Regions from separate parts of the Homo sapiens genome. Here region 1 is linked to region 2. Evidence: fine-mapped expression QTL. A gene starts in region 2. The other region holds a variant in brackets. All regions are shown on one strand. Distances are from middle to middle.

The links. PIP is the estimated chance that this variant, and not a neighbour inherited with it, causes the effect.
Region 1: its variant is fine-mapped to the expression of PPP1R1B in whole blood (TOPMed, PIP above 0.99).

The regions. Positions count from the first base shown.
Region 1 is chr17:39,654,153-39,656,652 of GRCh38, forward strand. The region is part of intron 2 of STARD3 (StAR related lipid transfer domain containing 3); the gene reads left to right. Among named protein-coding and RNA genes, the nearest start is that of TCAP, 9.9 kb to the right of the region's middle. RefSeq lists an enhancer at 1-411. The variant T/C (reference allele first, on the strand shown) is at 979.
Region 2 is chr17:39,625,140-39,628,153 of GRCh38, forward strand. PPP1R1B (protein phosphatase 1 regulatory inhibitor subunit 1B) reads left to right here and starts at 1,813. Exons shown (of 7, transcript NM_032192.4): 1 at 1,813-2,334. The coding sequence starts at 2,254.

The DNA.
Region 1 (2,500 bases), 29 kb after region 2:
CATTCGTTTGTTCGATCATTCATTCATTCATTCATTCATTCATTCAGCAAACATTTTTTGAGTCTCTGCTGTGTCCCAACCACTGTGCTAAAACCAGACGCTAGCCAGGTGTGGTGGTGCACACCTGTTGTCCCAGCCGTTTGGGAGTCTGAGGTGGGAGGATTGCTTGAGTCTAGAAGTCTGAGGCTGCAGTGACCCATGATTGCACCACTGCATTCCAGCCTGAGTGACAGAGTGAGACCCTGACTCAAATAAATAAGTAAATAAAAGCAGAGGGCACAGTGGGAAGCAAAACAGGAAAAACTCCCAGTTCCCAGTGGCTCTAATGAGATGCTGCCGGGCAGCCTGGAGACCAGAGCTGCCCCACCCCCACCCCACGCAGTGCTTGGCCCACCCTCAGGAACACAGTCTAGTTGGCAGTGGCCTGATCTGGTCTCCAGGCAGGGCCAAGCCCACATAAGCAGGAGCCCTGGAAGCAGGGCACCCCAGGCTCAGTTCTGTCCCAGCTCCTCCTCGGCTTTGGCCCGATGACCTCAGCAAGGGACTCAGCCCCTTGAGTCCTCCCCTCGTTTTCCTTCTGCAGCATGGGCTCCCCATCAGACTTCCGGATGGCAAGGGCCCTTCCTCCAGGTCTCATGCTTATGTGACAAGAAAACAATGTCTTGTTAATAGAGGTGATGAGCTCAGAGAAGGGGCCAGCTCCGGGCAAAGAGATTAAGTTTGATTCTGGGCATGTTGAGCTGGAGGGAGAGACAGGGCTCTGAGGGTGACTGTCGATTGTGCACCAGAGATGAGCTGGCACCTTCAGTGAGCTGGAGCCATGGCCATGGATGGCCCTAGGGGCCATCTTACCCATGAAAAAGCTGTGGCCCAGCAGGCTCAGGACCTTCTGCAGAGCTTCTAAGGTCTTAGGCAGACTTCCTTTTCAAGGTCCCATCCAACATCAAAGCAAACACTAAAACTTACCTGCATCCTTCA[T/C]TGAATACTTGTTTCCTTACCCAAAAAGAGCTGAAAAGATTTTGATAATTTTACTTTCGTTTTGTTTTGTTTTGAGACAGGGTCTTGCTCTATTGGCCAGGCTAGAGTGCAGTGATGTGATCATAGCTCACTGTAGCCTCCAACTCCTAGATTCAAGGGTTCCTCCCACCTCAGCCTCCCCAGTAGCTGGGACCACAGGTGCATGACCACATTTGGCTATTTTTTTTTTTTTTGGTAGAGATGGAGTCTCACTATGTTGCCCAGGCTGGTCTCAAACTCCTGGGCTCAAGTGATCCTCCCATCTCGGCCTCTCACAGTGCTGGGATTAGAGGCATGAGCCACTGTGCCTGGCCTCTGTAATTGTGCTTTTGAAGTTATTTGGCTGTGTTGGCTGCGATTGCTCTGCAGTCCTCATGCGTACCTGGGAATTCTTGCAAAGTGAGAAGATCTAACTTACTAATTGTTTTCAGATGTCATGAAACATTTCAGAATCCTGCACTGAACAATTAGTAGAGTCCACATGATGTTTCCCTTGGCAGACATTTAATTAAAATTGTATTGATTTTCAGTCTTGTAGTTTTACTTTTGTATTTGGGAGCATATATTTTTAGTTCGCTGACAGACTGTGTCTGTGTTGCCCAGTGGTTACAAGGACTCAGTAGGGTCGTGCTGAGCAGGGGGTTTGGAGCCAGAGAGTGGCAAAGCAGGGGCTGAGACTTGGCTCTCCCGAGTCCTGATCGGTCAGCACCGGTGGGTGCCCAGGCTGGAAAGAGGAAGGAGGACAGAGCTCTGAGGCCTAGTGACTGAGGGTGGAAGGGGCTGCAGAGCCCAGGGCAGAGTCTGAGGAGCAAGAGGAGTGCTGGGTGGTGTGGGTTGGGTGGGATGGGGTGGGTGGGTGGCAGGCCTGGGGGCCTCACCGGCAGCCAGAGGAGAGGTGGCATCAGATTTCATGGAGCTGGGGTGGGCTTGAGGAAGAGGCACATGGTGGGGCTGTGTGCTCAGTGGGGGAGCATCTGTATCTTTAACAAGCCCCCCCAGATTTGGCTGCCCTGCTGGAGAGCGGAAGCCCCAGTCTAGGCGGTTGTGAGGGGTCTTCCTCTCCAGGGCTCCTGGGCTCCATCGCCCAGAGTCCCTGTGTCCTCCCTTCTCCAGGGTGGCTGGTGCCCCACCTGAAGGAGCCTAGGCCCGTCACCCCCGTCATTCCAAGGAGTCAGGTCGCAGTCTGGCCTGGTGTCCATCCAGTTCCCTCAAACCTCTGGACATTGGAGTCAGGGCCAAGGCCTCAGGGGTCCTGGTGAAAATGTCTGGTGGGCTGGGGTAGGGACAGGGGCAAGGACACATCCACTCCGTCTCCACTTCACCCTCTCAAGCAGCGTGATGGATTTTGCCCATTAAGCATAAACCTAATCAATTGATTTGCCACCTGAGGCTCCGTCTGACACCACTGCCCACCCCCACCCCCCATCAGCCCAGATGGATTATGGCTGGGAAGATGGAGCACCGCAGTGCTGGGAGGGAGATG
Region 2 (3,014 bases):
TGCAACTGGTGCTGATGCCTCCCTGTCTCCACCCTCTCATCACCCTCCCAGCTATCCTCTGTCCCCTTCATCCCCACGATCCTTCCCCACACTGCCAGCACTGGAAGCCACAAGCCCCTTCCCCACCTCTGCCCACCCAGTGGCTGTCCGGGCCACTGCCTGGGCCATGCCCTTCCCATACCCCTTCTTCCTTTCAGGACCTCCTTATTTACCCTCCGAAGGCACTGCCAAACAGGTCTTTGCCACTCCCCACCACACCCCATCTTCGACAGAGGTTCTGGGCCAAGCCTAGGGGCTGCCAGAGATGCCTACACCCCTGGGCCAACAACTTATCATCCAGCTGTTTCCCAACAAGTATATAAGTCAACAAACATACAGGGACTTGAGCCAGGCCTGGGGTGGGCTGATGTGGAGCTGGATGGCCAGGACATCCCACTCCTATGAGCAACACTCTGGACCTCCTGCCACCCTTTCCCTCACCCCCAGAGTGGGCCCTGACCCCAATTCCAGAAGATTCCTCTGGCCTTTCACTCCACCCAGGACCCAGATGCTGGGGCTGGGAGTGGAAAAGCTGCAGGAGGATTGGGGGTTTCAGGCCTGAGAGTGACCAGGAGAGAGGACGCCAACACAAACAGAGCCCCAGGAAAACATGCATGTACACGTCTACACACACCCTCTCAGTGCTAGACAGAAGCATTCAGACCCTCTGCACAGCTCCAAGGAGGGAAACAGCAGCTCCTGCAAAGGCACCCAAGGCCCGGACAAATAGACCAAATAGACAGGGACATTCCACCCACAGGGCCAGCTCCTCCCGCTCCCGCTCCAGAGACACACACAAATACCTCTGGAGAGAGAGAGGCTCACACCTGTCTCCCCCAACCCTGCTTCTGAATGCACCAAATTCATGCACGTGATGGCACGTGTACAGGCAGCCCCCAAACCCACCCCAACTCTGGGCCGGCCCTGTCCTCCCCACCCCATTAGATCCGGAGAGGAAAGACAGGAGCCACGTGAATCTACAGTACATCATGGCAGGGCACATTCCCCTTCTCCCTCACAGGAGCGCTCACACATCCACAACCTCATACCCCAGCAACTGCACAGCGGAGCTGTGGATACAGTCCCCCACCCCCTGCAAGCTGGCACACGCCTGCCCATCACCTTGACAGCCTCTGACATCCTCCCCCACACCCACACCCTCCCCCGCACACACGCAGTCCTCCCACACCCTGCCACTCACACCTGCATCTTTGACACTCTGACACACTTACACAGACACACTCACACCACACCGGACCCCCCAAAACACACTCCCTGGCTATGGGCACCACAGGGCCCCGGCACACCCCTGCACACTCTCCCTGCCACGATGACTGACACGTGTCCTCCCACACACAACTCGGTCACACTCGCTCCCTTTCCAGGACACCCCCATTCACAGCGTGACAGGCTGGTACTCTCCCCACGACCTCGCAGGCCTCTCTGAAACTCCCAGTACCAGGACCACGAAGGGGTTAAAGCCAGAGTCCTGCCTCCCCGCTGCCCCTCTCCCCCTCCCTCCCCCTTTATCCTCTCTGCTGGACTCCATCAATAATGCAGCTTCAAGTTCTGGGGAGACCGCAGGGGGCCCCCCAGCTGGCTCCCCAGGCCTTGGCTCTAACTCCCACCCTCCTCCCAGCCCCAGGAGAACACGATTCTCCATGCTCATTGGCCAGTTTCCCCTAAACCCTCCCTCCGAGCACCCGGGCGCCAGTCCCAGGCGGAGGGGACGGGCTGGGGACCCCAAAGCTGGGACCGGAGGGTGAGCCCGGCAGAGGCAGAGACACACGCGGAGAGGAGGAGAGGCTGAGGGAGGGAGGTGGAGAAGGACGGGAGAGGCAGAGAGAGGAGACACGCAGAGACACTCAGGAGGGGAGAGACACCGAGACGCAGAGACACTCAGGAGGGGAGAGACACCGAGACGCAGAGACACCCAGGCCGGGGAGCGCGAGGGAGCGAGGCACAGACCTGGCTCAGCGAGCGCGGGGGGCGAGCCCCGAGTCCCGAGAGCCTGGGGGCGCGCCCAGCCCGGGCGCCGACCCTCCTCCCGCTCCCGCGCCCTCCCCTCGGCGGGCACGGTATTTTTATCCGTGCGCGAACAGCCCTCCTCCTCCTCTCGCCGCACAGCCCGCCGCCTGCGCGGGGGAGCCCAGCACAGACCGCCGCCGGGACCCCGAGTCGCGCACCCCAGCCCCACCGCCCACCCCGCGCGCCATGGACCCCAAGGACCGCAAGAAGATCCAGTTCTCGGTGCCCGCGCCCCCTAGCCAGCTCGACCCCCGCCAGGTGGAGATGGTAAGGGGCCCGTGCCCCACCCCGGCAGCGTACCCGACACACCCCGCGGGGCTTCTTCGCCCTCCCAAGGCGCTGCCCCGGCCGGACTGGCCTGGGGGTGGGGGCGCAAGGAGAGCCGGGCTCTGCCTCGGTCAGGACGGGGCGCGGGGCCGCGTGTGAAGTTAGCTGGAGACTCGTGCAACTTTTCCCCGCGGCTTTGGTCCTGATCCCGGGGCAAGAGAGTTCCTGGCAGTGAGGCTGGGGGTGCGGGGGTGGGGGGACAGGCCGATTCCAGACCGCCCAGGAGTGGGGTGGGGGCGTCCTTTGGTCCCAGCACAGTCCCCAAAGGGTAGTCAGTCTCCTAGGCTACCACCGGGACCGCTCCGCCTGGCTCTGTCCCAGAGCTGGTCAGATGTGAGCAGCGGTGGACACTGACCTTGTCACCCAGGGCAGGAGTATGAGGCTGCCACCGGGTGAATCCACTACCCTGCCCCTCTCTAATCCCGCGTGTGTGCCTGGGCTGGGGTCTCCAGAACCTGGCTCTGGCCTCCTGCTGTCAGGCCCCAGAGCCCCAACCCCAAGGAGGGAGAGGTGGGGAGTCATCACAAAGCCAGACCTCTTCCCACAGACTACTGAGTCCTCCTGAGGGCCTTCTTGGGGGTTGAGGGGCTTCCAAAGGCTGGCGGGTGCTGTGACAGAGA